Homo sapiens: one gene and its partners. The protein of the gene in region 1 purifies or fractionates together with the protein of each later gene. This does not show direct contact. Each region holds a gene or a part of one and is shown in the gene's direction. Other genes may lie near its edges.

Region 1 (7,027 bases):
GACCACAGGCATGTGTCACCACACCGGGATAATTTTTTTATTTTTTTTATGGGGTCTCACCGTGTTGCCCAGGCTGGTCTCGAACTCTCGGGCTCAAGTGATCCTCCCGCCTTGGCCTCCCAAAGTGCAGGGATTGCGGGAGTGAGCCACCACTCCTAGCCCATTTTTTTTTCTTTGAATATTTGTCCTTACCCACAAAGCATGAATTTGTTAGTGAAATTCATTCATCTTTGTTCTCTACCCCCATTGATGGAGTTGCCAATGGGTTGGAAAAGTGTGATAATACTCATTTCTCTCTACTCTTTTTGAGCCGTGCTTAGTTTTGCAGCCCTCTTCTGGCAGCTATGACCTAGCTTTGTGGTTTGTGTATGTATGAGTATATATACATATATATGTTTTCTGACCTTAGTTTCTAGTTCCGTTTTATATCCCTACCCCATCCTCCTTGTTGATACATAACAAGTGTAGCATTCATCCTGTCTGAGTTCCAGTCCTGCTTCACAGCTTGCTAGCTGTCAGTCTTTCTGCACCTCTGATTCCTTATGACAGAGATAATATGTACCAATCCTCCCGGGTTGGTTGTGAGTGCTAAGATATATATTCATTGGCCGGGCACAGTGGCTCACGCCTGTAATCCCAGCATTTTGGGAGGCCGATGCAGGTAGATCACTTGAGGCCAGGAGTTCAAGACCAGCCTGGCCAACATGGCAAAACTCTGCCTCTACTAAAAAAAAAAAAAAAAATTAGCTGGGCGTAGTGTTGCACTCCCAGCTACTTGGGAGGCTGAGACACAAGAATCCCTAGGAGGCAGAGGTTACAGTGAGCAGTGATCATACCGCTGCACTCCAGCCTGGGTGACAGAATGCAGTTTTCTCAAAAAAAAAAAAAAAAAAAAAAGGCCATGTAAAGTCCTAATGAGAAGTAAGCACGCAGTGAATGTTAACTAAAGGAAGGCTGAAAGTTTTAATCATAAGTGTCACCCATTTTCTTTTGTAAGAAATGCAAAATGAATAGATGTGCCAATATGCCTTTTCTTTGGTAAATATACTTCAAAGGAGTTTTTTTTATATAGTGGCTATAGAACCCTGAAAAGTAGTGGTGCCTGTTATGTGAACCACACAGTACTGGAATTAATAGCAGTTGTGTGAAGTATCTTTACTCCTGACTTGGTCTACTTAATACTTGCCCTACCTTTCTAGGGCAAGAGTAGCAGGCATGTAGAAAGAAAATATGAGAAAAATAAAGAGTCAAACCTAATTATATAAACTATCTTTAATCCTTGTGATTCAATTTTTGGGTTTTTTAAAAATACCTTTTTTTATTCTATTGGAAATACTATTCTATAGGAAGTTACATCGTATGATGGTGGTTTTTCCTTAAATTTCTATTCTAATTCAGATTGCCTAAAAACTGAAGGAGTCGGCTGGTCATGGTGGCTCACCCCTGTAATCCTAGCACTTTGGGAGGTCGAGGTGGGCGGATTGTCTGAGCTCAGGAGTTCGAGACCAGCACGGGCAACATGGTAAAACCCTATCTCTACTAAAATACAAAAAATTAGCCGGGCATGGCGGTGTGTGCCTGTAGTCCCAGCTACTCGGGAGGCTGAGGCAGGAGAATTGCTTGAACCCAGGAGGCAGAAGTTGCAGTGAGCCGAGATCGCCACTGCATTCCAGCCTGGGCGACAGAGTGAGACTCTGTCTCCAAAAAAAGAAAGCTGAAGGAGTCCACTGAAATCAAGACCAGAGTAGTACTAGTAAAGGCCTATTTTGAGGTAGTTGCAAAAATAAAATCTATCCTAGTGCCAGTGGGTGAATGACTACAAAAAATAAAGAGTATGAATGGTATGGTGTGTCTGGCTTCCAAGGTTAATTTCTGCCTAGTGAAAAATTGTTTGCATAAAATAGCAAGGCATGTCTTCTGAGAAGACTAGCTCTTAACACTAGCTTAAATTAGCAATCCAGCTTTTGAAGCTAATTGTGAATTTGACTCCTCTTGTGTGTGCAGAGAAATTGCTTCTGTGATTCATTCCTGCATCAGCAGTATGCAGTTATTTTAGAAGATTGTGTGCCAAGAGAGCCAGGCTGGCACTGCTCAGGACACTCTGTGACTAGAACTATATTTAACTGTTGTCTCAGAAAGAGTAAAAATTTTAAGCTCTTTGACCTGTTAAATTTTATAACTGAAGAACCTTGGTGATGATTCTTTAGGTGGGGAGGGAAATTCAGCCAATGTGTGTGCTGGCAGATCTTTATTCTGATGATTATAAAGTACGTATTGAGAAAAATGTCGAGGCTTGTGTAGAAGTATAAATATGTAAATTTTATATTGAACTGATGGAAATGTTTCTAAGTCCTGGCGTTAGCCTTGAAATAAGCAGAAATAACTTTAGGATATGACTTCATTCCTAATGTGAAATAGTATGCTTGTTCCTGAATACCCAAAACCATCTTAATGAAGATTAGATTCTGGTAAAAATGAGTGATTTTTGTGAATTGAGAAAATTTTTTTAGATTACTTTCTGTGATTGATTACAGCTTAAAAAATAAAAATAGTGGTCTTGACAGGCAAAATGCCTAACTGGTACTTCCATTTTTAATTTCCCTCGAACAAAAATTAGTGCCAGCTTTGGTGGTCCATTGATAAAATCTAAAATGCAGTGATAAAATAGCTCCTTTCTTAGTATAATGAAGAATGGCATGATTACAGTGAAATAGAGGGTCAAGACCCAATTCTAGTGACTGAACAAATCATTGTTTTCCTTGCTAAGCCAGCCTCTTAGTGGACAGGTAAAGAAATTAAACCAAACTAGACTAGCATGAACTATTGCTAATGGCGGGAAAGTGGACTTTGTTACATTTCTCTACTTTATATATGACGTGTCAAATATATATGACTAGGTAAATATATTTAATACTTAATACTGCCCTTTAACAATAATATACCCTTGCCATAAGATATTTACCTAAGTAGATAAAGTGAAGATATTTGCAATGTAAAATTTCTTTTCATTGCCTGCTTTTATTGCCGTGTGTGCCTTTTATTCTTATTTGAAGATCTTGCAGAAATTTTTTCTTCACAGTCTTTTCTCTTCAGTACGAATGTTATAAAAGACTTGGTGAATGAAGCCCTTCCTTGGTAAAAGGAAATGAAAATGCCAGAAATTGAAGATGGAATTAATGCTTAATTAATTTTCCTAGATTGTTTTCTGAATGTAGTTTTTTCTAAGAAGAATGATATTAAAGTTACAGAAGTAATCTGTATAAGAAATCTGAGTCTGTGTTAAATAGAAATTTTTTATTGTTTTGAACTGATTTCCTTCAAGTAAATGTAATGAAATGTAAACCTAATCCAGATTGTTTAAAGAAACTTGTATGAAGACATCTTTTCTTCCTTAATGACCAAATGTGATCTAATAGTTCCTGTACGTTACTTTTCAACTCTAAATTTCATTAATAATCATATTAACGGCCGGGCATGGTGGTTCGCGCCTGTAATCCCAGCACTTTGGGAGGCCAAGGCAGGCGGATCATGAGGTCAGGAGATCCAGACCATCCTGGCTAACATGGTGAAACCCCGTCTCCACTAAAAATACAAAAAAAAAAAAATCAGCCAGGCGTGGTGGCAGGCGCCTGTAGGCCCAGCTACTCGGGAGGCTGAGGCAAGAGGATGGCGTGAACCCAGGAGGCAGAGCTTGCAGTGAGCCGAGATCGCGCCACTGCATTCCAGCCTGGGTGACAGAGGGAGACTCCATCTCAAAAAAAAAAAAAAAAAAATCATATTAACCCTGGGAAGGAGTTCTGTGTATTACAGATTCCGTTTCCTTTCCAGAGAATGGGAGAGCTCAAGCACTCAAGCTTAGAACTGGTTTGCTGTTGTGTCCTTTGTAATTTAGAAATATTTATCATCATTCCTTGTAAACTGTTTTTTGACTGAGATACTTTTGTGATCAAATGAATTAAAAGACAATCCTGAGGTGCAACCTGAGATTCCTGACTTGCGTTATAATAGCATCATGTTACACCAAAAATGTGGAAGACTCCATTGGAGATCTATTAAGTGAATATTTTATACAAAGACAATCGTTTTTATGTTGAGACTGGGATACAGTGGTGAATTTAAGTGTTCTCACCTATTCAATCTTAGAAAAAAGCTTATTTGAATTAACTTTTTAGCATAGTTGGATTTTTTTTAATATGCAGGATACGGTGTGTAGGCTGTAGTTTAATTTTGCTCAAAATCTCTTTTTTTTTGTTTTTTTGTGATGGAGTCTCTCTCTCTGTCATCCAGGCTGGAGTGCAGTGGTGCCATCTCGGTTCACTGCAAGCTCCGCCTACCGGGTTCATGCCATTCACCTGCCCCAGCCTCCCGAGTAGCTGGGACTACAGGTGCCTGCCACCACTCCCGGCTAATTTTTTGTGTTTTTAATAGAGATGGAGTTTCACCATGTGAGCCAGGATGGTCTCGGATCTCCTGACCTTGTGACCTGCCTGCCTCAGCCTCCCAAAGTGCTGGGATTGCAGGCGTGAGCCACTGCGCCCAGCTCAAAATCCCATCTTATAGAGAGGGAAATAATTTTCATCTTCGTTTAAAAGAGTTCCGCATGATATTTATGTCCTGGATGATGAGAGCTCAGAATTGGTTCAGTGTATTCTCGACTTGGCTTGAGTAGCAAAAGAGGCGCTTGTTCCTGTGGGCAGTGAAGAAGAAAGGAGAGGATTGGTTGACAGAATGCTGCCACTGTGTAGTTATCCCGTACATTCAACAGATTTTAGTTGAACCACTATGTACCAGACTGTTCAAAGTGCTAGAGATTCAGCTGTGAAGAGGGGACACGATTAATGAACACCAGGCATTGATTCTTGCTGGCAAGAAAAAGCAGAAGATGGGGACAGTGATGGGCTTGAATTCAAGAGACTCTTTTTTTTTTAATAGGGTGGTCATAGAAAACCTTCCAAATTCTTTATAATGTGGTTTACTTTTGTAATTAAAAAGGATTTTGCGAGAGTTAGAAGGCACAGTCCCTAACACTGTTCTCACCTCTGACACCATCTTCAAAAGTTTAGTCATGATGTACCTTCAGAACAGCAGACAAAAAATAAAGTTCAGTGAACTATAAATTACAGGGAACACTGCCCAGGACTGCCTCAGTTTTGGCACCAATATACTAGTTCAGTGGGTTCCGAAAACCACTCTTAGGTTCAGTGATTCACAGGAATGACTCACAGAACTCACTTTAAGCTGTTACACTGATGATTATGGTTTATTACAGGGAATGAATACAATTTAAAGTAAGCCAAGGGAAAAGACTCATAAGGGCAGAGTACAAGAGGGGCTGACATCTGTAGTGTCCAGTCCTCCAGAGACCAAACTGATAGTGGGATCATCCAAAGTCCGCATCGTGAGTCACATTGTTAATGGTCCGCAGGTCAGAGCCCCCAGGCAGAGATCTCTTTACCAAGCAGGAAATTCCAGGGGCAAAGGCCAGACCTCTCCTCGGGTGAGGTTAATTCTTCACTATACAGATTTTTATTCCATAGCAAATTCTGAGGGACGAGAACCTTAATAATAATAAATGGCAATACCAAAATACATGAAGAAAACAAGGCTAGATTTATCAGAATTGTGGAGTGTGTGCAATGTGAGGGATTTTTCCAGTTGAGTTGGCATATTCTTTTTTTGTTTTAAGTTTGTATTTTGTCAACTGGGCACAGTGGCTTATGCCTGTAATCTCAGCACTTTAGGAGGCCGAGGCGGGCGGATCACGAGGTCAGGGGTTTGAGACCAGTCTGGCCAACGTGGTGAAACCCCATCTCTACTAAAAATACAGAAATTAGCTGGGTGTGGTGGCACGCGCCTGTAATCCCAGCTACTTGGGAGGCTAAGGCAGGAGAATCACTTGAATCCAGGAGGCGGAGGTTGCAGTGAGCTGAGATGGAGATCGCGCCACTGCACTCCAGCCTGGACGACAGAGCAGGACTCCGTCTCAAAAAAAAAAAAAAATTGTATTTTGTCTTTTCTTGGTTGTATAAATTCTCCAAAAGTTAGCCATTTAAAAATGTTTAAGGTCTTATTTTCTACTTTGTGATATGTGTGTATAATTTTTACTGTGCAAGTTTTAGCATTTTTGTATAGTCTGATTGTCCATCTTTTCCATAAACTTTAAGCGCACATGAGAATCACTTGGGAAAGAAATAGGAAATTCATGTTCCTTGACTCCATTCCAGAGACTGATTGACATGTCTTGGGCAGGTCCAGGAAGCTGCTTTTTTTTTTTTTAAAGGCAGGATCTTACTGTCGCCTAGGCTGGAGTACAGTAACATGATCATAGTTCACTGCAGCCTTGTACTCCTGGACTCAAGCCATCTTCACGCCTCAGTCTCCTGAGTAGCTGAGACTACAGGAATACACAACCACACCTGGCTTTTTTTACTCATTTTTTTGTAGAGACAGGGTCTCCTCATGTTGTCCAAGGTGATCTTGAACTCCTGGACTCAAGTGATCCTTCTGCCTCGGCCTCCAAAAGTGCTGGGATTACAGGTGTGAGCCACTGCCCCCGGCCTCCTTTGTGCTTTCAGTGTCATGAAATACCTGTATTTGTCAAGAAGATTAAGACCATGTCTTAAAAAAAAACAAAAGCTAGTGAGATACAAGAGATAATCTTAAATATACCTATAAAGTCCTAGGAACTGTTCGTCTGATTTATTTAGGAGCCGAAGTAAAAGTGATCTTTCCTGACAAATACAGAAAGAGATTTTTGCTAGCATCACTTCTTCCAAAACAATTTTCCTCATTTATGCAATAAGTTTGGATTTTCACTTCTTTATGTCACTAAGTTTCTGCGTGTTGCTAAGTTCCTGGCTGCATATTTGGAGTCTCTCCAACAGCAGCATTGTCAGCATTCCCACAGTCGGTTCTTCCGTGTACTTTTGATTTGAATTTCATTTCCAGGGTTATGTCTTGTGTGTTTGGCTTCTCTCTTTTAGCATAATATATCCAAGATTCCTCCATATTGTAGCATGTATCTGGA
Region 2 (7,027 bases), on another chromosome or scaffold:
CAGCCTTGTCTCCAAAACTCACTGTATAATATGTTTATAATGTCTATATATATTTAATTGCAATAAAATATACTAAGATAAAACTTGCCAGCTTAAGCAGTTCAGTGAATGCTAGATTCATGTAGTGGAATGTGCTTGTGTCCCCTCCCCACCCCCGCTGTGTTCAGCCTCTGCTGTTACTCCCCAGCCAGGCGCAGCTTTGGATGTGTCCACAGTCACCCTGCTGCTGTCTTCCACTCTCTCTGACCACACTCAGTTCTGAGCCCCACATATGTTTCTGTTGTCTTCAGCAGTGCCCTGGGATAATTAGAAACCAATTCAGTGAAATTGTGGCTAATTCTAAGAAACAGTTTCTGAAGTCATTTTAGGAGATTTGTTCCTACTCTGGAGGGCTCCTGCAGCAAGAATTCTCCAGCTCTCCCTGCTGACTAGCCAGCCGCAGTCCAGGCTGTGCCTCCATTAAACCCACACCTCCAGTTGCCTTCACTAGGACCTCCACTGCTCCTAGGTTTAAAGAGAGTGCCCAGGGTTTAAATGTTAGTGCCCTAACATTTAAAGAGGTTTAAATGTCACCAAACTCGTTTCTCCCTGAATGACGCCCCTGGTCTTATGGCGGCAGCCAGGGCCCTCTCAGCTTGTCACTCCAGCCCTGCAGCTACCGTCTTACAGAGCCAGGGCACAGCTGATCAGGACCCCCAGTATTCTCAGCCTGCCACACTCAAAGTTGAGCCTCCATTCCAGAATGGAGGCTGGACAGAGGTAGGAAGGCCCACTTTGCCCATGACTCCACTAGCCAGGATGCAGCATCAGCACCACGTAGCTGGGGTGGGGTGGAACTGGGGGAGAGGGCACTACATTATCAGCTGCAGCAGTCTGGAACAGAGTCGCTGCCTCACTGACCTGGAAAGGGGAGGCAGGGAGCAGTCTTGGTTCAAATACAACAGACTCTGGCCTTTCTTACTGAATTTTCAGTTGTTTGCTGTGAACCCTTAGAACGATCTCCAGAGTCTCAGAACAGTTGTTTTCTTACAATGTTCACCTGTTTTCCTTGGGAGCAAGCAGGTCAGTGGAGCTTCTTGTGCTGTCATGCTAGAAGTTGATTACCCACAGTAGGGATTCTTGCAGAAGAAATATTACTTTAGAAGAGAGGCTGGGCACGGTGGCTCAAGCCTGTGGTCTCAGCTACTTGGGAGGGTCACTTGAGCTCTGGAGGTCAAAACTGCAGTGAGCCATGGTCACACCATTGCACTCTAGCCTGGGTGACACAATGAGACCCTGTCTCAGAAAGAAAAAGGAAGAAAAGGAGGCTAGGACAGGGGTGGTGGCCTTCTAGGCCATCTTTCCTCTCTCTCCAGCAACTCTAGATCACATGTCTGTGAGTCATTTAAAATGTCTTCATTCAGTTCATGTCAGGATCCTGTTCAGGAAAATGTTTTGGACTTCTCTGGCTGCTGAGAAGGTGGACTTGGATTCCCCTTCTTTCCCTGCTGTCCTTGTCCCAGGGTGCAGGGATAGAGGGAAGTCAGATGGTCTGTCAGTGTTGTGATTTGTTAGGGAATCTGTGTGGTCCATTGATGCCCTCTTTCTCTGGAGGATCACTGAGATCCCTTCCCCATAACTTGTAATGAGGTTGCCTTTGTGTGAAGACTGTGGAGCCTTGATGAAAGGCTTTCTTTAGGGGGTCTTTCTTATTTATTTAATTTTGTTTTGTGATTTTCTAGGAGTTCGCAGCACTTACTAAAGAACTCAATGTATGCAGGGAACAGCTCCTTGAAAGGGAAGAAGAAATTGCTGAACTGAAAGCAGAAAGGAATAACACCAGGGTGAGTGTGACCTTTCTGTTCACTGCCTGCCCCTGGAGCCACTGTCAGGAGGAGGGGCGGTGTGTCAAAACGAAAGGACGACCCACTCTGTCTGGCCTGAAATACTTTTCATACCTTTTCCCACTGAGCAGACTGTGATTAGTCAGCATGATCACACATTAATGGCTTGAAATTTGTGATGAGAATTTATGATATTTTAATACAATTGAGAGGAATTTGTTTTTCTGCGGAATTGAAGGGACTTCATTTTAGTATGAGACTGTAAAGGAGTTATTTGCCCCAGATTCAATCATGAAATTAAAAATGCTGTTTAACAAGTCTTTATTTTGGCCTTTTATTTCAGCTGCTGTTAGAGCATTTGGAATGCCTTGTCTCCAGGCATGAGCGGTCTCTTAGGATGACCGTGGTGAAGAGACAAGCGCAGTCTCCAGCAGGCGTGTCCAGCGAAGTGGAAGTGCTGAAAGCACTGAAGTCCTTATTTGAACACCACAAAGCTCTGGATGAAAAGGTGCCATCAGCCACATAAGTCTTGGTTTGTGCACATGCTGTGTATTAGGCCAGCTTCACAAGTGTTGGTGTAACTTTTGTTTTTTGAAGCTTCTTGAATTCTTGGAAATAACTTCTCTAAGAAGACAGGGTTTTGTAGGTTTAAAAAGTACTAATTGGCTTAAATGTCTTAAAATTACTAATGTATATTGATTTGCTGTTACAAATTGGGTAGTATTAGGTTGTTGCAAAAGTAATTGTGGGCAAAACCTGCAATTACTTTTGCAACAACCTGATATTTCGGGGGAAGATTTATTTTTCTGAAACTTAATTTAGAGCCATTAACAAGTTTTCTTGACAGTAAGATCAATGACAGACATTAATGGTATTTTATTATGTTATATTACACTAATATATACATTAAGTGTATATATTACACTTAACTATATATTAAGAATAAAATAAACAGTATACACACACACACACAAACTCAACCCCTTTTATTTTCAGGTGAGAGAGCGATTACGAGTAGCACTTGAAAGATGTAGTTTGTTAGAAGAGGAATTAGGTGCCACACACAAAGAGGTAAGCTTGAGACTTCATCATGAGTTGAATTGGGGGGGGGTTATTTTTATCCTTTAATTATTAAAAGCAGCATAAGGCCAGACGTGGTGGCTCACACCTGTCATCCCAGCACTTTGGGAGACCGAGGCGGGCGGATCACCTGAGGTCAGGAGTTCCAAGACCAGCCTGACCAACATGGTGAAACCCCATTTCTACTAAAAATACAAAAATTAGCCAGGAGTTGTGGCATGTTCCTTTAGTCCCAGCTGCTCGGGAGGCTGAGACATGAGAATTGCTTGAGCCCAGGAGGTGGAGGTTGCAATGAGCTGAGATTGCACCATTGCACTCCAGCCTGGGTGACAGAGCAAGACTCTGTCTCCAAAAAAAAAAAAAAAAAGTAAAAGAAGTATAAGGACTGTAGTTGTACATATCACATGTTACTTATCTTCCCAATTGAGGACCAGCCTATCTGAGTCATTTTAAGGACTACAAAATGATGGTTACCTAAGGACTCGTCTGGCCAGTGGATAATAAATTCCATCTTCAATGATCTGGTTATTTTCGGATTGGGTAGCATTGCCATATGCTTTCTCTTTTATACTATGTTAAGCAGTTTTTAGTTGTGTTTTTCCAAAAGGAGTTTTGCTATCTTTACTTATTTCTCTTATGTAAGGTATTTTACACTCATATTCAATTTTTTGCTTTCAGCTAATGATTCTTAAAGAACAGAATAATCAGAAAAAAACTCTAACAGATGGAGTGCTGGACATAAACCATGAACAAGAAAATACACCAAGCACGAGTGGAAAGGCAAGTCTGTAGGCTTTGTCTTTATTCTGTTTGATTTCATTTGTTCACAGTATGTGTCGGGTTATGTGGAAAACAGTTGCTAAAGTACCGGCTTAGAGCTGAAGTGGTCATGAAAGTTGTGTAATCCAACAGATTGCATAAGTCAGTTTTGATTTTAGCTATTTCCTGGAAGTATTTTTATTTTATAGCTCACCAAACAAGGGTATTTAAGGATTTTTTTTTCCCCCTATCAGAGATCTTCTGATGGTTCTTTAAGCCACGAGGAAGACCTTGCTAAAGTAATTGAGCTCCAAGAAATCATAAGTAAGCAGTCAAGGGAACAGAGCCAAATGAAAGAACGCCTGGCTTCCCTTTCCAGTCATGTGACAGAACTGGAAGAGGATCTGGACACGGCTAGAAAAGATCTCATCAAATCTGAAGAAATGAACACAAAATTGCAACGAGATGTCCGTGAAGTGAGCAATAACAAAAACTACAGTCTTGTCATGAAGTTGTATGTTTGGGACGTTTTAGTTAAATGATTTTTTTTCTCTGTTTGTCTCTTACTCTCCCAATTACTTTCAACCTTTGGATTATTGTATAAGTTATATTGAAAAAGAGAGAGTGCTGTGAAACTGCCATAAGCTACCTCCCCATTTTTGTTGTGAAATCTCCTGTCCCTGAGCTCTTCAAAGTAGAGAACTAGTCCCACTGACTGACATGGCCATGAAGTGGACGCCACACTGGCCTCTCCTACCTGTGCTGCTTTAATATTCTTTAATGTCCTTGTTTGTAGATTCTTCATCTGTGCAATTTCTAGGCTGTCTTAATTTGTTCTTATGTTCAGATTGCCTTCTGTTGCACACATACTTAGCAAGCAGATATTGATACTGGCTGTGCTAGCTCACGTAGGGCAATGTGAGTATAGTCTCTTAACTGTGGGAGGGGGCGTTGCTGGCGGTCTTCTCATTTTCTGACCTGCTCCTTCAAGGAATTTGTGGCGTTGAATATTAATGGTCAAACAATCAAGAGTGGAATTTGCTTCTACATGGGTCATCAGGATCGTATAGCAAAAATATGTCACAATATACTCATTGCTGACAAATATTTCTGCCATTATAACTGTGAGAAACTATTTGATCATGAATGCCGGGCGTGGTGGCTCACGCCTGTAATCCCAGCACTTTGGGAGGCTTAGGCGGGCGGATCACGAGGTCAGGAGATCGAGACCATCCTGGCTAACACGGTGAAACCCCGTCTCTACTAAAAAATACAAAAAAATTAGCCAGGCGTGGTGGCGGGCGCCTGTAGTCCCAGCTACTCGGGAGGCTGAGGCAGGAGAATGGCGTGAGCCCAGGAGGCAGAGCTTTCAGTAAGCCGAGATCGGGACACTGCACTCCAGCCTGGGCGGCAGAGCGAGACTCCGTCTCAAAAAAAAAAAAGAGAGAAACTATTTGATCATGAAACAGTGAGGCTGAGTGCTTTCTCAGGTGCCCTTCCTGTCACTTTCTAACCTGCGCTTTGTCCCTTGTCAGGCGCCTCAACCGTTGAATGTCTGCTTTTCAGTTTGGTAGTTTGACGTTGAGTAATTTCATGTAGGAATTCACCACAGGAAGAACATTTGCATGTAGTATGTCACCTAAGGTTCTATTCTTTGGCTACAGCAGGAGATTATGTGGCAGAGATTAATATGCAGAGAATTTTGAAATTCTTTTAAGACCTATCACTTTTATTTTTTAATTTTTTATTTTAACTTTTAAGTTTGGGGTACACGTGTAGGTCTGTTACATAAGTAAACTTGTGTCCTGGCGGTTTGTTTTACAAATTATTTCATCACCCAGGTACCAAGCCTAGTTATTTTTCCTGATCCTCTTCTTCCTCCTATCCTCCACCCTCCACCCTTTGATAGGCCCCAGTGTGTGTTGTTCCCCTCTGTCTGTCCCTGTGTTCTCATCAGTTAGCTCCCACTTATAAGTGAGAACATGAGGTATTTTGTTTTTCTGTTTCTGTGTTTGCTAAAGATAATGGCCGCCAGCTCCATCCATGTCTCTGCAAAGGACATGATCTCATTCTGTTTTATGGCTGCATAGTATTCCATGGTGTATACGTACCACATTTTCTTTATGGAGTCTATCATTGATGGGCATTTAGGTTGATTCCTTGTCTTTGCTGTTGTGAATAGTGCTGCAGTGAACATACGTGTGCGTGTGTCTTTATAATACAACGATTTATATTCCTTTGGGTATATACCCCGTAATGGGATTTCTGGGTTGGTATTTCCATCTTTAGGTCTTTGAGGAATCTCCACACTGTCTTCCACGATGGTTGAACTAATTTACCCTCCCACCAAGAGCAGGAAAACATTCCTTTTTCTCCACAACCTCACCAGCATCTGTTACTGATTGACTTTTCCACAATAGCCATTCTGACTGGTGTGAGATGCTGTCTCATTGTGGTTTTGATTGGCATTTGTCTAATCGGTGATGTTGAGCTTTTTTCCCCTATCACTTGTAATATTTAGACTTTGCTAACTTTAGTCATTTTATAAATAGGGAACAACTTGAAAATAGTGAATTCTGGGGGTGGAGGACAGGTATTTCTCAAGCAAAAAGTTCTGGTCCTAGCCTTAAGTGTTTGAAACTGTATAGTAATCATCTTGTAGACTTCAGGTAGTTGCATCCAATTAAATTAAACTGGTACTTCTGTTTCCATTTGTCAATATGCTTGAGTCTTGTAATTGTATGAGAGTTCATCCAACCCTTATCCTAGAAAGTGAGACTTGTATCTCACTACTGTGTCCACTGAGAGAGGCCGCACCCTGTCCTGTGTGAGACCATTTGTAGCGTGAGGCAGACGTAGACTGCGTCTTCTTTGAGGACACTTTCACCTCCTTGAAAAATATTTAGATATTTGAGTGTATATATTTTTATAATATTATGTAGAAACAGGAAAGCTTGGTCAACTGAGTGGCCAGACATAGTATTAAGAGAGACAAGTCTTTGTTAATCGTATAGGTGAATATTTATGGTATTTGAGGTAGTTACATTTTCATTCACATTTGAGAAAATTGACATCTTCATCAATTTAATTTTGAGGACATTATTATTTATTTATTTATTTTTGAGACAGGATCTCTCTCTGTTACCCAGGCTGGAGTGCAGTGGCGCCATCATAGCTCACTGCAGCCTTGAACTGCTGGACTCGAGCAATCCTCCTGTCTCAGACTCCCAAGTACCTGGGACTACAGGGGCGTGCCACCATGCGTGGCTAATTTTTGTTTCTTTAAAATGTTTTTGGCCAGGGACACTGGCTCACGCCTGTAATCCTAACACTTTGGGAGGCCAAAGGAAGGCCAAGGAGGATCT
Region 3 (7,027 bases), on another chromosome or scaffold:
TGGATATGTACCCAGAAGTGGGATTCCTGGATCATACAGTAGTTCTGTTTTTAATATTTTGAGGAACTGCCTTGATGTTTTTCTTATTGGTTGAACTATTTTACAACTCAGTACACAAGGGTTCCTTCCGAATTCTCCACATCCTCACCAACACTTATTTTTCTCTTTTTTGATAGTAGTCATCCTAATGGGGGTGAGGTGGTATCTCATTGTGGTGTTGCTGTGCATTTATTTATTGATTAGTGATGTTAAGCATCGTTTCATATGCTTATTGGCCACTTCTGTATCACCTCTAGAGAAATGTCTATTCAAGCCCTTTGACCATTTTTTAATCAGGTTACTCGATGTTTTTAGTTGCTGAATTGTAGGAGTCCTTTATATATTCTGAATATTAATCCATTATAAGATATATGATTTGCAAAGATTTTCTCCCATTCCATACACATAGTACCATTTGTCTATTTTTGCTTTTGTTCACTGCTTTTTGGTGTCATATCCAAGAAATCATTACCAAGTCTACTGTCCAGCTTTTCCTCCATGTTTTCTTCTAGGAGTTTTATAGTCTTAGTCTTACTAGGTCTTTAATCCATTTGAGTTAATTTTTGGATATGGGATAAGGCCCCAGCTTCACTTTGGAATATGCATATCTGTTTGGTTATCCCAGTACTGTTTGTTGAAGAGACTGTTCTTTCCCCATTGAGTGGTCTTGGCAGTCTTGTCAAAAATCATTTGACTATTTATGTGAAGGTTTATTTTTGGGCTCTCTATTCTATTCCACTGGTCTATTTGTCTTTACGGCAGTACTAAGCTGTTTCAATTACTGCAGCTTTGTAATTGGGGAGTGTGAGTTCTCCAATTTTGTTCTTCTTCAAAATTGTTTTGGCTAGTCAGTGTCTATGAGATTCCATATGAATTTTAAGGTGATTTTTTTTATTTCCTAAAAAAAAAAGCCATGGGAATTTTGATAGAGATTATATTGAATCTGTGGATTACTTTGGGTAGTATGGACATCTTAAGCATCCAGTGATCTTTAAGATAATATGTTACTATCTCATGTTCACTTTTAGATTTTCATATTGTGGTTGATTCAGTATATTTATTTCAATTATAATGTTTCAAATATTTCAATGGTACAGAAAAATATAGAGAATTATTTATTTTTTCAGCCAATATTTGATTGCATACTCTGTGCTTATCTACAATAAAGATTTAATAAATGTTGACATTTTGTCATATTTGTCTCATATTTCCTTTCAAAATTACTATTGCAGGAACATTATATCATTATCATAAAATATAAGAAAAAATGCTCTACTGACAAATCAACCTATTTTCAGTTTTCCTTTTTAGTACTTTACTATACCACATTTTTCCAGTAGTAATCCTAACTTAGATGACATGTTGTAATCTGTTTCTTGCTTATATTATAAGCATTTTTTCATACTGCAGTATGTTCTTTGTAGTTATTCTTTTGATGAAACATCCTTTTGCCAACCAAGTATAAGAAAGGCTTAATCTTGGCACTACCACTTACTAGCTTTGTGATCTTAAGAAAGTTTCCTAAATTCACAGAAACTAATAGCAATAAAAAGTAAACTTGTAATTATCTTAAAATGAATATTAACAGTGACCCATACAACAAGACTGTTGGAAGGATTGAATGTATATTAAAATGTCTAGGACTTAGTAGGTCCTTAATAAGTGCTAGTTTCCTTCCCTTTCCTTTTCCCAGGGATCTAGTTTTTAATCCTGTTCCTCCAGGGGTTGCCCTCGGAGACTCAGAACTTGCTCTTATTCCTCCAGACCAAGAAAGACCATCCATACACCTGGAGAATTGAACTGGCAAAAACAGAAAAATACTGGGACGGCTGGTTCCGAGGCTTATCCAATCTCTTTCTTAGTTGTCCCATTCCTAAATTGCTGCTCTTGGCTGGTAAGTGTATATGTGCATATATTAGTCAGCTCAGGCTGCCATAACCAAATATCATAGACTGAGTGGCTTAAACAACAGAAATTTATTTTCTCACAGTTCTGGAGGCTGGAAGTCTGAGATCAGGGTGCCAGCATGGTCAGGTTGTGGTGAGGGCTGTCTTCCTGGCTTGCCTTCTCTCTGTGCCCTCACATGGCCGAGAAAGAGTGAATGTGAGCTCTCTGGTGTCTCTTCTCTTAAGGATATTAATTAGGGACGTTCATCCTATCATGTCAGAGCTCTGCCCTCATGACCTGAGGTTACGTCCTTATAGGCCCTAGTTCCAAATACAGTCACATTGGGAATTGGGGCTTCAACATGAGTTTTAGGGGGACACAACTCAGTCCATAGCAGTGTTGGTATATTGTCATCTCAATATGACCTCATTAAAACTTCTCACCAAATGAGTAGTGACATCCAAAGTAGAGTACCTTCCTCATTCATCTATGCCTTTTCTCCTCCCCACACCCAGTCTCTAAACCTAACTAAGCATAAGCATTCATCTAAGCATAAAGGATGACCTAATTCTGGCCTGGCCTGTCTACTTGGTCAAGCTCAAGTCCTTCTTAGTCTAGAGCTAGATGCAGTGGTATAAGGATATTCTGATTATTATGAGAATTAAAATAGTAAAACCTTGTTTTCAGAACCAGTTTAACATAGTAATTATAGGGGAATCTCAACCTGAAAAGTTTTATCTGGTGGTGAGAGTATGCTCTGGGAGTTAGGATTGGTATAAACATGAATGGAGAATGTCATCATATTTAAAACTTTGTAACACTTTTTACTTAATACGTGAACAGCAAAATCTGTTTCACAATGAATTCTCTTGTTTTCTAGGTGTTGATAGATTGGATAAAGATCTGACCATTGGCCAGATGCAAGGTAAGTTATCAAGAAATTATACCCCTGGACCCTTTTCTGAAGAAAGGGTGATAGGGCAGTTAACATCCTGAGATAGTGAGGTATAACGGAGAAAGCATGAGCTTTAGAGTCCGACCCAAGTTGGACATCCGCCTCTACTCCTAACACACTATATGATTATGGGCAAGTATTTCCCTTTCCTGAGCTTTAATTTGTTTAAAAAAAAATCCATCCAAAAATGAAGATTATAATACTACTACCTATGTCTCAGTTATAAGAGTTAAAATGAGGCAATGTGTTTAAAAATTATAAAGTACTGTATAGGTGTATGATACTGTGAAAAGAGATATTCTGACTACTGATCAGTTTTTTGTTTGTGGGTTTTTTTTTTTTTTTTTTTTTTGAATTGGAGTCTCACTCTGTTGCCCAGGCTGGAGTGCGGTGGGACCAATCTCGGCTCACTGCAACCTCTACCTCCCAGGTTGAAGCAGTTCCGGGCCTCACCCACCCCAGTAGTGGGATTACAGGCATGCACCACCACGCCCAGCTAATTTTTGTATTTTTAGTAGAGATGGAGTTTCACCATTTTGGCCAGGCTGGTCTCAAGCTCCTGACCTCAAGTGATCCACCTGCCTTGGCCTCCCAGAGTGCGAAGATTATAGGTGTGAGCCACTGCAGCTGGCCAGTATTTTTCTTATTGTTAGAAGTTTTAGGAAAGGGAAAGGCTCAAGATAATCCAGATATAAAAAGGTATAAATACCTGTTTAGAAGACAGCATGGTAAGATGGTAAAAGTAAGGTCTCTGAAGTTCGGAAAACTGAGTTTTGAATACTGCTTTTCCAGTAATTTTTTGACTCTGGGCAAGTTATCTGACTTGCCTCAGCTTTAGTCTTCTTAATCTGGAAAATGAAAAAACTGATGGCAGCCTCAAACAGATCGTGGGGTATAATGAGTAGGAAAGTGACATGCTGAGCACTGTATACAGATGCATGTATGTTAGCTAGATAACAGTGGAGGCAGCGGGTCCAATTTTGTGGGGGCTCTTGCTTTAGTACGGGTAAAAGACTCAGTGAAGGTGAAGCCAGTAGGCATACAACTTTTGGGTTATGGGAAGAAGAGGTGCCAACTCCAAGACCAAAGTTTCAGGCTCAGGCAGAATCTGTTCTAGACCTTTCTTCCCTACTTACTCTCCCTGGACAATTTCATGGCTTCCATTTATATATTGATGACTCCCAAAGCTAAACATCCACCTCACCCCTCTCTCCTGAGATCCAGTCCTAGCCTATGTAGCAAACCTGCTGGATATCTCATGGGCCTCTCAAACTGTTCTTTTAGCTATCCTCAAGCTTTCCACAGCAAAAGGAGCTATATTCTCTCATAATAGTTGTTCAAAGGCTCTCACATATAAAACTCTGGTCCCAGACCTTCATGGCTTTGCCTTCCTTTAACTACATTGTATCCTGAGGCCTAGAATAGGACTATGAGCTGGGACTGTGTGATTTTTTTTCCATGGCACTGATGTTGGTAATTATGGGCTTAGACACTTATTTAAGTAGATGCTTATAAATGTCTAAGCCCGTAATTACCAACATGAGTGCCATGAAATTGAATCTAAGACACTTAAGTTCAATTCAAGAAACCTTTCCTAGGCACCCTTTCTGTGCAAGACCTATGCATGATGCTGGGCAGACAGAAGAATCAGATATGGCCCCTGAGACTGCCTGAAGGCAGTTGACATGGACTGGGATAGCATTTGAAATCATTGTTGATCACCAGCCTTGGAATCAGACAATCCTGGGTTTGAATCACTGTTAATAGTTTTGCGGTATGAGTGAATTCCTAACTTATTTAATTTTGAGTTTCTTCATCTGTGAAATGGAGATAATGATATATCTCAGTACAGTTACATGAAGTTTAAATGAAAAAAATGCGGGTAGTCTAACAAATGATGCCTTTCATTATATTCAGGAAGTAATCACGATTCCTTATGAGATGTCCTCCTGTTTCCTCAATATGGATTATATCAAGACCACCTTCTGGTTTAAAGAAAGCCTCCTATGAGTATAGAGAGTAAATGGCGAGGATAAGGAACATTCCACAGAACAAAGGGAAATGGCTAAGGCTGCATAGATTCCAAACCACAGCTTTGCCAGCACTGTGTTCAAACCAACTGACTTAGTTATGAAATCCTGGAAAACTACCACCTATTCATAGTACCCCTTGGGTAAATAATTTAGGCTCTCTGAACCTAAGGCTCCTAATCTGTGCAATGGGAGAGAAGAGTTTGGAAATATTCCCACCTCATAGAATAATCATGAGGATTACCCATGAACATGTTATTTTATGTGTACCTGGCACAGTGTTGTTGGTGTATGTGAGTTCTCTCTGATTATACCTACTCTTCCAAAGAGGAAGGACAAATGCGTCCCTAGTCATCAGAGCTGATCTAACAGAAAGAACAGGGAGATTGGAGTTGTAAGTTTTGGATCTAGTCATTTGTTCATCATTCATTCGCTAAAGACTTAAGCATCTACTCAGTGCCCTACCCTGTGTTAGGTCTTATTAGGGATATAGAGCAAGTAATAACACCATTGTCCCCTGTTCTTATGGAAATGACACACTCCTGGGGAGGCAAGCACCAGTGGCATGTAAAATGTAAACTTACTTGAAACTTACAAGAGGGCCATGTGCTGCTCTGTGTTTGGATCCAAGTGCATTAACAACTTTAGGAGCTAGAAGGGAGAGGTGACTAGGCTTGAGCACCCAGAGAGAGGCAGCTTACTGCAGGAGGAGGGGCACAGGATGGACTTTACTAAATGGGATCATCTTATTCCTCCACTAATTAATGAAGTGGCCTTGGGCAGGTTACTTCACTAATCATGGCCTCAGTTTCATCATCTCAGAAAAGAATTTCAGTATTTTTGTGCTTAATTGTATAGGGTAGATTTTGAGAATCAACTTTAAAAATGGATAGAAGAATACACTGAAAACTTTTGAATCCTGCGTAACTGGGGTAAGAACCACAGGATGTAATGACCAGAAGAACTTTCAAGCCCATTCCTTTATTTTATAAATAGAGAATCTGAGGCTGAGAAAATCTGCTGTCTCTACTTATGGGGGCTCTGGGTCTCATATCCTTTAGTCTCCTTAGGGATCTTCTTTATCAGTCATCGCTGTTCATTCTCAATCATTGTCGCATTAGTTACGAGCTTACAGTGTTCTGTAAGACAGTATGAGAAAGTGCTTAGTACAATGCCTGGCACATGCTTAAGTGCTCAGATGGTAACTTATTATTGTAATAATACATTTTGAATCCTTAACATAGCTTACAAAATCCTTAATGGTTTGGCCCCTGCTTACCTCTCCAGCCTTATTGTTAACCACTCTCATAAGCACCATGCCAAGCTTCTTGTATTCCAAGCCATTTCAAGCCTTCCTTCCTTCCTGGTTCCCTCTTGGATTGTGAAGTTCCCTTTCTTATGCTCTTACAGCCCCATGTAGCCAGTTTTATCATAGGAATGACATGCTGCATTAAAATGTTGGTTTTTGTGTTTTACTCCCCTACTGGACTGTAAATCCCCTGAGGACAAGAACTGTTTCTTCTATGTGTCTCTGGCCCACAGTAAATGTACACTAAATAGGACAGAAGGAAAAAGTGAAGGGAAATGATTGGCGCAAGGTTACAATTACTTGTATTACCATCCTCAGCAAGACTTGATAATTGGGTCCAGAGTATTGAGGTGAGGTTGGAAATGGGGAGGTAGGTCCTGGGCTCCTGGAATGACCTATGAGGCTGCATAAGAGAGGGCTCTTTTAGTCGCTGAAGTTGCCTTGCTTTGATTCCTCTCCAGGGAAGTTCCAGATGCAGGTCCTACCCCAGTGTGGCCATGCAGTCCATGAGGATGCCCCTGACAAGGTGAGTCTGGTGCTCAGTGACTGTAAAAGGACAACTGTGAGAATAACCCTGGATGTCACAGAAGACAAGTCTCTGAGTCTCAGCCTGCATTGCCTGCAGCAGCTGCTGTGGAGCCTATGCAGATGCAGTTCCACCAGCTCTCCAACTTCTCCCTGGCAGCTGCTTATGGTATTGGTTTTGTGTATATGTGCTGAGGAGCTACTGACACTCTGCTATTTCATCCCAGGGCCCTGTGGTTAAGATCTTAAGCTCTACTTCTCCAATACCCCCAAAAGCCAGAG
Region 4 (7,027 bases), on another chromosome or scaffold:
AACCTGGGAGGTGGAGGTTTTACTGAGCAGAGATCACCACTGCATTCCAGTCTGGGCTGGTGACAGAGTGAGACCCTGTCTCCAAAAAAAAAAAAAAAAAAAAAGTACCAGTCAGGTGTACATGTTCTCTTAAAACAGTTTTTAGATATTACATAAATTCAGAGGTTGGGGGAATGGAGATTTGAGTTTCTTCTTAGAATTTATCAGTAATTTGTTTTTCCTCTCTTCCTACAATAGCGGCCCTGTTCTGTCATTAGCTATTAGTTCTAATGGAGAACAGTGTTTTAGTGGTGGTATTGATGCAACCATCCAGTGGTGGAATATGCCGAGTCCCAGTGTAGATCCATATGATACATATGGTAAGTAAAATGATCAAAATGTATTTTTTTTAAGTGAATGGAGCTGACAAAAGTAAATACCTCAAATATGATTACAAGGTTATTTAAACCTATATTAGTCACCTCATTTAGTTCTTCCATTTGCTAATAAATTGCTTTATTAAAGAGAAAAATTAGGAAATGTCATGCCATGGGTATTTAAGCCTATGAATTGATACTTTCTCTGTTGTTTAAAAAACTATATTAATTAAAATGTTAATTTAGGTAGTAGTTACAAAAAGAAGGAGGAAACAAAATGTAATCTAAGTAACAAAATTTTGAACTTAAGAAATAGTTTATATATTTTAAAAATATTAAGCAAAAGACAATGGAACCAACATCAGGGGTATAAATCATTAAAACTTTTTGGAGCCAAAAATTTTTTTTGTTATTCTTAGCTCATATCTACAAAAACATTCTTAATTTCAAAATGGAAGAAAAAAAAAAAGAAAGGAAACCTCCTTTGACTTGCAAATGTAGCTTTTAGAAATCTGTTCTACAGAAACACCTACCTGTACCTGTGTTCAAATATATTTGTAAGGGCACTGTTAATAATTATAAAACGTTAAAACAAAATGTTTATGAACTCTTTGTTCTTTTTATTTAACACACACATTGTGCCTACATTAGCTAGGCATTGTGGTAAGCACTATGTCAAGAAATAAGATTTAGACTAATGGAAAGTAGAGACATAAAACAGATAAGCGAAGGGATGGGATCTATGGTTACAAATTGTGATAAATGATAAGAAGATAGAGTACTGTTGAGAGGGCGTAACAGGCAGAACCTTCTCTAGAAGAGTTAGTCAAGAAAGGTCTTTCTAAAATAGTGACATTCAAGCCAAAATCTGAAGGATAAGAGGAAACTTTCAGTAAAGAGTTTTAAGCCAGAAAGTTATCTGATAAATGTAAGGTTTTAAAAAGGTGACTGTGTCTGTTGTGAGAAGAATAAATTGGGGGCGAGAAGAGTGGAAAGAGAAATACCAGTTAGGAGGCTGCTGTCATAAAGTAGTCCAGTAAACTAGGTGACAAACGACATTGCCAAGATTAGAGTGGTGGTAGCACAGCATTTAGAAGTGGTTTTAAGATACGCTGAGGGAGTGTGGTAGAATAGACAGGATTTATTGATAAATTATGTTGAGTAGATAAAGTGATGGGTGAGTGACTCTTAATTTGTATGTGTTTAACTGCTTTACTGAGATAATTTACATATCACAAAATTCACCCTTTTAAAGTATACAGTTCAGGCTGGACACAATGGTCCATGCCTGTAATCCCACCACTTTGGGAGGCCGAAGTGGGTGGATCACTTGAGGCCAGGAGTTCAAGACCAGCCTGGGCAACACAGTGAGACCTCATGTCTGCCAAAAATTTAAAGATTTGCCAGATGGGGTGTCACATGCCTATAGTCCCAGACACTCGGGAGGCTGAGCTGGGAGGATCACTTGAGTGTGAGAAGTAAAGGCTGTAGTGAGCTATGATGGTGCCAGTGTACTCCAGCCTGGGAAGAGAGTGAGACCCAATCTCTCTCTCTCTCTCTCTTTCTTTTTTGGAAACAGTCTTGCTCTGTCTCCTAGGCTGGAGGGCAGTGGCGTGATCTTGGCTTACTGCAACCTCCGCCTCCCAGGCTGAGGAGCTGGGACCACAGGTGTGAGCCACCACACCGCACTAATTTTTGTATTTTTTGTAGAAATGGTGGCCATGTTGCCCGGGGTGGTCTTAAACTCCTGGGCTCAAGTGATCTGCCTGCCTCAGCCTCCCAAAGTATTGGGATCACAGGCATGAGCCACTATGTGCAGCCACAAGACCCCATCTCTAAAAAAAAATTAAAGTCTACAGTTCAGTAGTTTTTACTATGTTCACAAAGTTGTACAGCCATCATCACTAATTTCAGAACATTCACAAAGTTTTACAGCCATCATCACTAATTTCAGAACATTTCAAACATTCAGAACATTCAGTCCTGTTTGATGTGAGTAACTGAGCATGTGATGGGAGCATTTATTGAAACGAGGACAGAACAGGTGTGAGGAGATTTAAGATGGTGAGTTCAGATTTTAGGCATGTTAAAGGATGACAAATATCAAGTAGGTAATATACAAATAAGGAGCCCAAAGAGATCTCGATTGAAGTTAAAAACATGGACAGTCTTCTCTATACAAATAATACATTAAACTATAAGAATGGGCAATACTGGGGGAGTGTATTGTTTGGTGTAAGAAGAGAAGACAACCTGGGACTAAAGTCCTCAGTAACTCTGACACTGGAAGAGTGGCTAGAGCAAGAGAGCCAAGAAAGGAAACTGAGGAGGTGTGACCCAAGAGACAGAAGGAAGTGCAGGAGAGGGTGCGAAATCATGGAAGCGCACACTAAAGAAGAAACAATTTTGAGAAGAAAGAAGCAGTCTGCACTTTCGAATGTTGCTGAGAGGTCCAATAATATGATATAAAGTTTCCTTTTTATAAGTGACTAGCAGGTCACCCAGGTCTTGGCCAGACAGAGTTTGGACGCTGCAGCTAAGACTGAAGAATGAAGGGACCTCTGGATAATCTTTCATGTCAGACTATATGGATGAAAAGCAATATAATGGGAACAACAACAAAATGTTTTGTATCATCAAAGAAAAGTATTAAATTTGATAGTGTAGGGATCATCATTAGCAAGGATTGTTTTGGTGTGGTAGTGGTATCAGAAACCAAATTGGAGTGATTTGAAGAGTAAACAGGAAGTGAAAAGCATATTTCTATTGCTGGGTGGAAGGGGTGGTAGGATAGGATTAATGAAGATTTTTTGTTGAAGAGATTCTGGAACAAGTTTTTTTTCACTATGGTAATGATTCCAAGGAGGAGAATTTGTGTAGTAGAGAAGCAGTAAACATTACAGCAAGTTAGTGACATCTGGTATTAGCCTTTGATAGGATGGAGGACAGATTCCTTGCTTGTATCTGGAAGCTAGGAGAAGATACCTTTAGACACTAATCATTTATATATTACGCAGCAAGAAGATGGGGGATAAGAAACATGCAGCATTATTTGAATGCTATATTTTCTCAGTGAAATATGAGGCATAGTCATTCATGAGGAAGAGAGGTTGGGAGCTGTGAGAATTGTGGAGATGATAAGAACCATTCATGGAAAGTGGGAGGAGTTTACTAGAAAAACAGGATTGTCAGACAAATTATGCTCAATGTTATCAGCTGTCAAATGTCTGTCAGTTAAGGAACAGATAAATAAAATATGGTATATCCATACAGCAGAATATTATTTGGCACTAAAAATAAATGGAGTACTGATACATGCTCCAACATGGATAAACCTTGAAAACATGTTCAGTGACCAGGAGTTCAAGGCTGCAGTGGACTGTGACCATGCCACTGTACTCCAGCCTGGGTGATAGAGCAAGACCCTATTTCAAAAAGAAAAAAAGAAAACATACTCAGTGAAAGAACCCAGTCACAAAAGACCACATATTGTATGATTCCATTTATAGAAAATGTTCAGAAAGACACATCTATAGAGACAGAGCATTAGTTGTTGCCTAGACTTGTGGAAAGGTGGGGAGGAGGAATTGGGGGAAGTGACTAATGAGTGATGAAAGTACCCTAAAATTGATTGTCATGATGGTTGTATAACTCTGTGAACAACATACCAAAAATCATTGAAGTATACACTTTAAATGAGAGAGTTGTATGGTATGTAAATTATATCTGTATCTCAAGAAAGCTGTTTTAAAAAAAAAAAAAAGCATATGTTTCTTTATAGAAAATTGTGAAAATACAGAAAAATGTTGATGGGAGGAGGGTATAAAAGTAGGCCATAACTCTACTCTTAGATATAGCCACTATGTACACTTTAGTTTATCTTCTTGTGGCCTTTATGTGTGTTCTTTATGCTCAGTTATATGGTAAGTTTTCTTTATGTATCAAAGTTTCTTTTAAACTTCTTTTACCTAATTTTTTGTTTGTTTGTTTTTTCCCCAGAGCCAAATGTTCTAGCTGGCACTTTAGTTGGTCATACAGATGCAGTTTGGGGTCTTGCTTATAGTGGCATAAAAAATCAATTACTGTCTTGTTCAGCAGATGGCACTGTTAGGTTATGGAATCCACAAGAAAAATTGCCATGTATTTGCACTTACAATGGAGATAAAAGTAAGTAAATTTTGCATCTGTGAGAAAAGTTAGTTTTTTTAAAAAATTGGAATATATAAAGGACAAAGTAATTGATGTATTTCTTTACTGTTCCAAAGAGATATATTGAATGAATTTTGTAAAAGTTAGGATAAACTTTTTACTCATTTTTTTGAAGTGCTTTGCAACTATGTCCTGTAGTGCAATGCTTTTTTACCTTTTTTGTATTCCATTTTTTAAAAATGTAAAACTATTGTATATAACAGTGGAATAGACAAATGAGGATACTCATAGGGACAACAGGAGGCACACCACCTGTTCCAGACGACTACCCCACAAAGACCGAAGGGATCACAGTCTCAAGCATACCTATAAACCCTGTGTTCCATTACCTCGAGCACACTAGTTGAGTAGTCCAGCCATAGTCACTGAACCCCTAACTGGAACAGTACAAATTGGGTTATTTTCATGATTTTAAATATTTTCCTATTTAAAAAGGCTTTAACCAGTTTACCTTTTGAAGACATTTACTGGTCTTATTTTCCAAGTCATTTTAAATTTTTTTAATTAGACCTTTTATTTGTACATAAAAATACATATTGTTTTAAAACATTTTAGGTGAATAGTAAATATATAATTTTGTGTCTCTTAGACACCGTAGTGATTGTACTAATTTTCAGTTATCCAAGCTTTAGAGGTAAGAATTCATTTAGGTATTTGTTTCTGGCTTCATCTAGATAGTTAATAGCTTGGCTCCATATTCCATCTAATTGTGCATTGATCTGGCTAGTTTAATTTAGTATGTTAAAGAGAGAAATTGCTGCTCAGGCCATTTTAGGGTAAAGTACTGCATCAGCTGATTCCAGAGTCCAAGCCATTTTCATGAGTCCAAAAATCTGACTTGTATTAGCTGCTTGATAAGGCCTACAGATCTCTGATAGGTGAACCAGTCTCCCAAAGTTATGTGAGAATGCTAATTTATCATTTTACAGTAAGAAGTATAATTGGCAAATTGGCCAAAAGACTAGGATTTTATTTAATCCCTTAGAAGAAAACGTGTAATAGAACAAATAACTTTTGCATGTATTTACTCTTTATGAGCTCTGTAGTTATATTTTTCTTACAATATTAAATAGAATGCTATAAAGTTTTTAAATAATTGAGGAAAAGATATTTCTTATCTCACCATCCTGACACAGTTGTGTTCCTTTTCATTATTAACAGTATTTCAAGACTATTTGAATTCCTTTTTCTGATTAGAAAAACAGAGATTTCAAAAAGTAGAGATTTCATAGTAATTTTACTTTGTTTACATTGTCTGTCTTTGGGCTCATTTCAGAGCATGGAATACCTACATCAGTTGACTTTATAGGCTGTGATCCAGCTCATATGGTAACCTCTTTCAACACTGGTAGTGCAGTAATTTATGATTTAGAAACATCACAGTCATTGGTGATACTTTCATCACAGGTAGATTCTGGTAAGTTTTCATGGAGTTTCTTTGAAACCTTAAAAAGGGTTATTACACAATAGAGGGTGATCTTTTAGCTAATTTTCATATTTTCACTATTTGAATTTAGGATGGCAAAATAATTAGTTTCATAATGTTACAGTTATACTTATTTATATTATGTCTGCTTTTTCTTCAAATTTTGCTTAAAAGCTTGGGTGGACATATGGGAAAAGAGGAATGTCTAGAGCAATATGAAGGTGAAAGTAGAGAAAATAACATAATGAACTTAATGTACTCAGCATTCAGTTTTAATACCTATCTATAAATGCCCAGTATTACACATGCATTATGTGGTGTTTTACAGTTTATTTAGATAGGGATCACATAAGATTTATGTATTGCAGTTGTTTGATAGGTCTCTCAGGTCTCTCTTCATCCATAGATTCCCCTTCATCTCTTTTATGTTCTTTTTTTTTTTTTTTTAATTGACGAAATTGGCTACTTTGTCTTGTCAAGTTTCCGACAGTCTGGATTTTGCTAGTTGCATTCCTGTGTTATTTAATGTGCTTCTCTATTTCTATTCACAGTTCTCCTGTGAATTGATTATAGATCTAAAGACTTATTCAAATTCAGGTTCACTGTTTTTTTCTTTTAAAAATTTTTAAATGTTCTTGGCAACTTTACTTCATAAGTAATTTGTAAGCTTTTATCAGAGGTGAGTATTTTCTGGTTGTTCATGTTTTTGTGATGTTTTCAGTCTGGATTATTTCCTGGGTTCATTCATTTTCTATTGAAAGATTTTCTAATTTTATCATTCCCTCTCCATTTATTAGCTAGATTATTCCTATAAAAAAGAACATCTCTTTATCAACAATTTGGTTACCTTGGAGTTAGTGTGTATTAAGGAAAAAGGCAAGATAAATGATTGGGTTTTGGTTTTCCCCTTTATTTACCAGTTTTTAAAATAATGAGTTGGTTTGCTAGCACCCTCTAAAGGTGACCAGTTTGTCTTGGGTGGTGTTTTTGGTATCATCATACTCTCTCATGGATATAAATGTATTTGATGTGTTTT

Evidence for each region.
Region 2: the proteins of PPP2CB (region 1) and PPFIA1 purify together in Homo sapiens (affinity purification with mass spectrometry; 6 studies listed by BioGRID and IntAct, with this or other methods). This does not show direct contact.
Region 3: the proteins of PPP2CB (region 1) and PPME1 purify together in Homo sapiens (affinity purification with mass spectrometry; 8 studies listed by BioGRID and IntAct, with this or other methods). This does not show direct contact.
Region 4: the proteins of PPP2CB (region 1) and STRN3 purify together in Homo sapiens (affinity purification with mass spectrometry; 7 studies listed by BioGRID and IntAct, with this or other methods). This does not show direct contact.

What each region holds. Positions count from the first base shown.
Region 1 is NC_000008.11:30,802,793-30,809,819, reverse strand, and holds part of PPP2CB (serine/threonine-protein phosphatase 2A catalytic subunit beta isoform), read left to right. Parts: intron 1-7,027.
Region 2 is NC_000011.10:70,322,681-70,329,707, forward strand, and holds part of PPFIA1 (liprin-alpha-1), read left to right. Parts: intron 1-1,721; coding exon 1,722-1,823; intron 1,824-2,127; exon of another isoform or gene 2,128-2,166; coding exon 2,167-2,331; exon of another isoform or gene 2,332-2,447; intron 2,448-2,819; coding exon 2,820-2,894; intron 2,895-3,581; coding exon 3,582-3,683; intron 3,684-3,916; coding exon 3,917-4,138; intron 4,139-4,419; exon of another isoform or gene 4,420-4,574; intron 4,575-7,027. UniProt on the Homo sapiens protein: May regulate the disassembly of focal adhesions. May localize receptor-like tyrosine phosphatases type 2A at specific sites on the plasma membrane, possibly regulating their interaction with the extracellular environment and their association with substrates.
Region 3 is NC_000011.10:74,244,273-74,251,299, forward strand, and holds part of PPME1 (protein phosphatase methylesterase 1), read left to right. Parts: exon of another isoform or gene 1-1,223; intron 1,224-1,761; coding exon of another isoform or gene 1,762-1,803; coding exon 1,804-1,933; intron 1,934-2,806; coding exon 2,807-2,851; intron 2,852-5,873; exon of another isoform or gene 5,874-6,050; intron 6,051-6,681; coding exon 6,682-6,746; coding exon of another isoform or gene 6,747-6,986; exon of another isoform or gene 6,987-7,027. UniProt on the Homo sapiens protein: Demethylates proteins that have been reversibly carboxymethylated. Demethylates PPP2CB (in vitro) and PPP2CA. Binding to PPP2CA displaces the manganese ion and inactivates the enzyme.
Region 4 is NC_000014.9:30,904,373-30,911,399, reverse strand, and holds part of STRN3 (striatin-3), read left to right. Parts: intron 1-237; coding exon 238-359; intron 360-4,355; coding exon 4,356-4,523; intron 4,524-5,841; coding exon 5,842-5,982; intron 5,983-7,027. UniProt on the Homo sapiens protein: Calmodulin-binding scaffolding protein which is the center of the striatin-interacting phosphatase and kinase (STRIPAK) complexes.